Homo sapiens: one gene and its partner. The protein of the gene in region 1 purifies or fractionates together with the protein of each later gene. This does not show direct contact. Each region holds a gene or a part of one and is shown on either strand. Other genes may lie near its edges.

What was found.
Region 2: the proteins of C15orf40 (region 1) and KLHL36 purify together in Homo sapiens (affinity purification with mass spectrometry; one large-scale study listed by BioGRID and IntAct). This does not show direct contact.

The regions. Positions count from the first base shown.
Region 1 is NC_000015.10:82,994,591-82,998,406, reverse strand, and holds the end of C15orf40 (UPF0235 protein C15orf40), read left to right. Parts: 3' UTR 1-3,590; downstream 3,591-3,816.
Region 2 is NC_000016.10:84,651,195-84,655,010, forward strand, and holds part of KLHL36 (kelch-like protein 36), read left to right. Parts: intron 1-3,816.

The DNA of each region.
Region 1 (3,816 bases):
AGTGAGGAGCCCCTCCGCCCGGCAGCTGCCCCATCTGAGAAGTGAGGAGCCTCTCCGCCCGGCAGCCACCCCATCTGGGAAGTGAGGAGCGTCTCCGCCCGGCAGCCACCCCGTCCGGGAGGGAGGTGGGGGGGGGTCAGTCCCCCGCCCGGCCAGCCACCCCATCCGGGAGGGAGGTGGGGGGGTCAGCCCCCCGCCTGGCCAGCCGTGCCGTCCGGGAGGGAGGTGGGGGGTCAGCCCCCCGCCCGGCCAGCCGCCCCGTCCGGGAGGTGAGGGGCGCCTCTGCCCGGCCGCCCCTACTGGGAAGTGAGGAGCCCCTCAGCCCGGCCAGCCACCCCGTCCGGGAGGGAGATGGGGGGTCAGCCGCCCCGTCCGGGAGGGAGGTGGGGGGGTCAGCCCCCCGCCTGGCCAGCCGCCCCGTCCGGGAGGGAGGTGGGGGGGTCAGCCCTCCGCCCGGCCAGCCGCCCCGTCTGGGAGGTGAGGGGCGCCTCTGCCCGGCCGCCCCTACTGGGAAGTGAGGAGCCCCTCTGCCCGGCCAGCCGCCCCGTCCGGGAGGGAGGTGGGGGGGGGTCAGCCCCCCTGCCCTGCCAGCCGCCCCGTCTGGGAGGTGAGGGGCGCCTCTGCCCGGCCGCCCCTACTGGGAAGTGAGGAGCCCCTCTGCCCGGCCACCACCCCGTCTGGGAGGTGTGCCCAACAGCTCATTGAGAACGGGCCAGGATGACAATGGCGGCTTTGTGGAATAGAAAGGCGGGAAAGGTGGGGAAAAGATTGAGAGATCGGATGGTTGCTGTGTCTGTGTGGAAAGAAGTAGACATGGGAGACTTTTCATTTTGTTCTGCACTAAGAAAAATTCCTCTGCCTTGGGATCCTGTTGATCTGTGACCTTGCCCCCAACCCTGTGCTCTCTGAAACATGCGCTGTGTCCACTCAGGGTTAAATGGATTAAGGGCGGTGCAAGATGTGCTTTGTTAAACAGATGCTTGAAGGCAGCATGCTCGTTAAGAGTCATCACCACTCCCTAATCTCAAGTAATCAGGGACACAAACACTGCGGAAGGCCGCAGGGTCCTCTGCCTAGGAAAACCAGAGACCTTTGTTCACTTGTTTATCTGCTGACCTTCCCTGCCAAATCCCCCTCTGTGAGAAACACCCAAGAATTATCAATAAAAAAATAAATTAAAAAAAAATAAAAATAAATAAATAAAAATGAAAAACAAAAGCATAATAGAAATAAAGACCATGTTGGAAACAGTGCAACAGAGAAGAGGCTGAAAACGGTATGAAATTTAGAAGGCAAGATAGAGAACAGTGAATAAAGACAGGAAAATAACAGCTATAGAAGTCAGTTAAAAATAATAATAATAATTATTATTATTATTATTATTATTTGAGACGAAGTTTCGCTCTTGTTGCCTAGGCTGGAGTGCAGTGGTTCAATCTTGGCTCACTGCAACCTCCGCCTCCCAGGTTCAAGCGATTCTCCTGCCTCAGCCTTCCAAGTAGCTGGGATTACAGGCCTGAGCCACCATGCCTGGCTAAATTTTTTTCTTGTTGTTGTATTTTTAGTAGAGACGGGGTTTCACCATGTTGGCCAGGCTGGTCTCAGACTCCTGACCTCAGGCGATCCATCCGCCTTGGCCTCCCAAATTACTGGGATTACAGGCGTGAACCACTGCATCCAGCCAAAATTATTCATTTTTGTATTGTTTCACTTTTTATATTTTTTATTTTATTTTATTATTTTATTTTATTTTAATTTTATTTTGAGACGGAGTCTCACTCTGTCACCCAGGCTGGAGTGCAGTGTCGCAGTCTCGGCCTACTGCAAGTTCTGCGTCCTGGGTTCACGCCATTCTCCTGCCTCAGCCTCCTGAGTAGCTGGGACTGCAGGTGCCCGCCACCACGCCCGGCTAATTTCTTTTTGTATTTTTAGTAGAGACGGGGTTTCACCGTGTTAGCCAGAATGGTCTCGATCTCCTGACCTCGTGATCCGCCTGCCTCGGCCTCCCAAAGTACTGGGATTACAGGCGTGAGCCACCGCGCCAGCTTTATTATTTTGTAAACACACAAGTTGAGGAAATTTTAAAATGAGAAAAATACACACACAAACAACAAAGCTCTAGCCATTAGCAATTAGAACAGCTTTATTTACCTAATTCAGACAAAGAGACTGGAGATTCTTTAGGGAGTTAAAGGCACGAGCAGTGGAAAAAAACCATGAGATCATCATCACATCATCCCCTGAAGCTGTCTCAGGAGGAGTCACTGAAACCCAGAGAAAATCTAACTGGTAATTAATACATAGGGCTCTCGTGTCCCTGAGGGAAAGGAGTGAAAACACCAACTGAATTAGCCCATACATGGGGCTGTCTGTGCCCTTTAGGGAGAGGAGTGAAAACAACTGAAATCAGCCCATCAGCCCATGAAGACACTGGTGAAAATTATGCGACTTGTCCTTCTTGCACCTAAGCAGCCCACAGATAACTCACTCTTATATACGAACCTGACTGACTGGGTAGCCATTATGTGCCTAGCTTAGTGCTGCATGCTTTATGCTCTCTCTTAATCCTGCAATGGGGCAGTCGAATCACATATTAGCTGTTTTTGTTGCCTGTTTGTTTTTGAGACGGAGTCTCGCTCGGTCACCCAGGCTGGAGTGCAGTGGTGCAATCTTGGCTCACTGCAACCTCCGCCTCCTGGGTTCAAGCGATTCTCCTGCCTCAGCCTCCGGAGTAGCTGGGATTACAGTCATGTACCACCACACCCAGCTAATTTTTGTATTTTTAGTAGAGATGGGGTTTTGCCATGTTGGCCAGGCTGGTCTGGAACTCCTGACCTCAGGTGATCCTTCCACCTTGGCCTCCCAAAGTGATGGGATTACAGGCGTGAGCCACCGTGCCTGGCCAGCTGTTCTGACTGAAGACTTGTCTTCTTCGTTAACCTGCTCCTCCTGTTTCATCCTGCAAATGTTTAAATCTGAGGGGTATTATCCACAGCTCATCTCCACTTTTCTAATCTGACAGCACTGATAATTGAATTCCTCAGAAGCAAGATGTTTCTCTGGCACCCAGAGGCCTCAGCAGTGTCACGACAGCTGAAGTGTCACTTATTCCTCATCCTGGGCACACCATGATGGAGTGCAGCCCCACTGATTGGGACCCATGCAGCCAGCCTGGCCCAGGGCCACTCTCTCTCCCAGAATGTGCACAAGTCAAGGGATCTCTACTTCCATCCTTATTTTCCTCAAAAGCTGGTGCCAGCAGTAATCAACCAGACTTCTAGAAAAGAGGAGATAATCTGCTCTCAAGGCTGCTGTGGGCTCCAGTGTTGTAATCTACTACTTGAATCTAGTTGTTTATTTCATTCTATAATAATTTAATACAGCAGATGTCAGGAGAAATCTTTGTTTAGATATTATGTCATATCTGGATATATCTGAATCCTGAATGATTAATCTAAATATTAACAATATTCACTTCTGCCAATGTCAAGAGTATTTTCTGCTACTGGGCTTAAATCAATTTTAAAATTTGAGAGTTTTAAAAGCATATCTTTCTGTGTTCATAAATAAACAGAACGAAGATTCTTTGAGTACCTTATATAATTTTTCACACAGAATTAACCAAAGCCTTATTTAATATTTCAAAATCCTCATTTATATATATTAAATATGTGTCTCTGGTTAAAATGCAAGATACTGAAAGAAAAATTCAAATAGGCATTTCAGTGAATAGTTTACATATAATATCTAATTTGTCTGACATTACAAAGTAAGTACTTTCACAACTAACATTTCCAGCTAACTAAAGTCCAATAA
Region 2 (3,816 bases), on another chromosome or scaffold:
GACTCATTCGTTAACCCAAGGAGGTGGATGGGACAGGAAGAAAACTGGGATTCCCATGCCTGCTTGGGGGCTCAAAAACTCCAAGGACAGGTCCATTGAGAACCCAGCCTTCTACCTTAGGGTGAGGGCAACACACCGTGTACCCGGACCCCAAGGGCCTGGAGTCGTCTTCCCTGGTCATGATTCCCTGCGACCTAAGAGCAAGTGAGGGCAAGTTCCCCAGAGCCAGGCTACTGGGGGAGTTCTAATTAGAAATATGTAGCCTGTTCCCACCAGCCACATTAAAATCCAAGAGCCAGACCCGGCTGCTATACTTTCCACAAACTCCTGTCCCCACAGCTGCTGTTGGTAAAGAGTGGGGGAGCCATTGGTATGAGGTTCCTGGTAACCTGTTTCCCCGTTATAAATATTCGTAATGCCCTCTGTTCTTTAGAGGTATCCCTTTTGGAGATTAAATCTTATGGTTACCTCAGATCATGGATTCTCAATGAGTATGATATTGCCCTGAAGTGGGAGAAAATTGGTTCTCGGGAGGGTGGAAGGAATTTTACTCCTTTTATGCATAAGACACAATTATACATACAGTACATGAGCAGACATACAGTGCATCTGTGATGTTAAGATTTTGCTGGGGAGGCTATTAGGGAAAAAAATCTTAAAAGCCTTCTTGTGGGGCAATAATGAAAAAAGATACAGAAACACTTCTTTAGATGAAGGGAGCTGGCAGCAGCCTATAGAGTTGAGAAAAAGGGGGAAAGAGATTCTACAGATTCTAAAAGAAAAACTGGCTGTCATTTTCAAGAGAGGTTGGCTCTCTTGAGATATGACCTCCTGTTCTCACGTGAGTTCCCCAAGAAGGTTCCTGCCAAGCCCAGCTTTATCGATTGTGAAAACCCAGAGAGGTCTCGCCGCTCGCTCACAAGGGCTTTGTTTGGGAGCTTAGCTTGGGAGACACTGCTGCTTTCTAAGTTTGACAGCACTGGAAGTCTTTGTCCATTAATGCCAGGACCCTGAGTTTGTTTCTGTCTGAACTGAATCTCTTAGGACTAGGCTTCTGTATCACTGGATGATGTTTCTAACTTTTTTTTTTTTTCGAGACAGGGTCTTGCTCTGTCACTTAGGTTGGAGTACAGTGGTGCGATCATAGCTCACTGCAGCCTCTACCTCCTGGGCTCAAGTGAGCCTCCCACCTCAGCCTCCTGAGGAGCTGGGAATACAGGTGCATGCCACCATGCCCAGCTAATTTTTGTATTTTTAGTAGAGACGGGGTTTCACCATGTTGGCCAGGATGGTCTTGATCTCTTGACCTCGTGACCCGCCAGCCTTGGCCTCCCAAAGTGCTGGGATTACAGGCGCGAGCCACCATGACTGGCCTGTTTCTAACTTTTTATTTTTAAAAAGTGTACCCATTAATTTCTAGACATTAAACACACCTATGTTGCCAGCACCCAGATGGGTAAAAAACAGAATACTACCAAACCCTCCCAGTTGTTACACTCAAGATAGTCGCTGTCCCAACCCCACCGCTGTGGTTTGATCTGCTTTTGAACTTTGTCTAAACGGGATCCGAGGTCGGGTACTCTTGTGTGTGGTTTCTTTTGTGCAACATTGTGCCTCTGAGCCTCACCCGTGTTGCTGCATGTAGTTGGTAGTGGTAGGTTTTGCTTTCTCAGCATGTTGGTGTCTTCCCACTGTGTGGCCACAGTGTCTGTTCACCTGTCTGCCCTAAGATGTGTTGCTCAGCCAGGCACAGTGGCTCACGCCTGTAATCCCAGCACCCTGGGAGGCCGAGGCGGGAGGATCTCGTAAGCTCGGAGTTTGAGACCAGCTTGGACAACACGGCTAAACCTCATCTCTACAAAAGATACAAAAATTAGCCGAGCCTGGTGGCATACACCTGTAGTCCCAGCTCCTCAGGAGGCCGAGGTGGGAGGCTCACTTGAGCCCAGGAGGTAGAGGTTGCAGTGAGCTATGATCGCACCACTGTACTCCAACCTAAGTGACAGAGCGAGACCCTGTCTCAAAAAAAAAAAGTGTTGTTCCTTTTTGATGCTAAATTCTTTTTCCACGTCTAATACCTGGTACCTGCCGCCTCCTCCCAGGTGTAAGCCCCCGACAACCTGAGTTTCTCCCTCTACTTGGCCTTGCATCTGATTAAGGCACTGAAATAGGAAATAAAGAAATGAACAAGACTCATATCATCAGAGAATGCTGTGGATTGGAGCTTCTAAGTTACCTGAAATGCGGAAACTCTGTTACCAATGTCCCTTTATAATTGGGAAATAGGCCAGGCGCAGTGGCTCACGCCTGGAATCCTAGAACTTTGGGAGGCTGAGGTGGATGGATCACTTGAAGTCAGGAGTTCGAGGCCAACATGGTGAAACCCCGTCTCTACTGATATATGTATATATGCCGGGAGTGGTGGCACCTGAGGTCAGGAGTTTAAGACCAGCCTGGCCAAAATGGCAAAACCCTGTCTCTACTAAAAAGACAAAATTAGCTGGGCATGGTGGTACATGCCGGTAGTCCCAGCTACTCAGGAGGCTGAGGCAGGAGAATCGCCTGAACCTGGGAGGCGGAGGTTGCAGTGAGCCGAGATCGAGCCACTGCACTCCAGCCTGGGCAACAGAGGGAGGCTCTGTATCCAAAAAAAAAAAAAAAAAAAGGGAACTCGTGTGCCTGTGTTTTTGGAAAGTTGTCTATGCAGCTGTGCTAAAACACCAGAAGCAGATTGCAGCTGATTGTACCCGGGTACAGCATCACTCCAGCCCACTTAGAGCAGAAACCCAGTTTTGGAAACAACACTGCTCTTGCCCCCTGCCCCAGCTCACTGGAGCTGGTGTCTCCCCTCGGCAGCCGTTCACTGGGGCTTTCCCCAGTCCTGCCCCCTGGGCTCTTTCCCTTTTGACACTGCAGTCTGGGGTTGTGTGTATCTCCGTCTAAGCATGGTAGGGCCAGCACCCTCACCAGCGTGGAGACAGCCAGGGTCCCCGGGTGGCAGATAGCCGCCTCATGCCCTCATATGCGTCTCTCAGGCCGCTAAGCCTGTACTATGACTTGATCACCGCCACTGTAGTACTTTTTAATTTCCTTCCTTCAGCTCACACCCAAGAGGGGCCTCCAGTCAATGTCTGTAGAAGCACTGACCATTCCTGCATAATTAGAAGCTGAGGCCTAGCACGGTGGCTTATACCTGTAATCCCAGCACATTGGGAGGCTGAGGCAGGAGGATCGTTTGAACTCAGGAGCTGAAGACCAGCCTGGGCAATGTAGTGAGACCCCATTTCTACAAAAAATAAAAGTAAAAAATAGCTGGATATGGTGGCACACACCTGTAGTCCCAGCTGCCAAGGAAGCTGAAGTGGAGGGATTGCTTGAGACTAGTTTTGTTTTGTTTTGTTTTGTTTTGTTTTGTTTTGTTTTGTTTTGTTTTGTTTTGTTTTTGAGATGGCGTTTTGTTCGTGTTGCCCAGGCTGGAGTGCAGTGGCTCACTGCAACCTCCGCCTCCGGAGTGCAAGTGATTCTCCTGCGTCAGCCTCCTGAGTAGCTAGGATGACAGGCGCCCGCCACCACAACCAGCTAATTTTGTATTTTTACTAGAGACGGGGTTTCACCATGTTGGTCAGGCTGGTCTCGAACTCCTGACCTCAGGTGACCTGCCCACCTCGGCCTCCCAAAGTACTGGGATTCCAGGCATGAGCCACCACGCCCGGCTGAGCCTAGGAGTTTCAGGCCGCAGTGATCTCTGATCTACTGTTGCATGCCAGCCTGGGAAACAGAGCAAGACCCTGTTTCTAAAAATGAGAAAAAATTTAA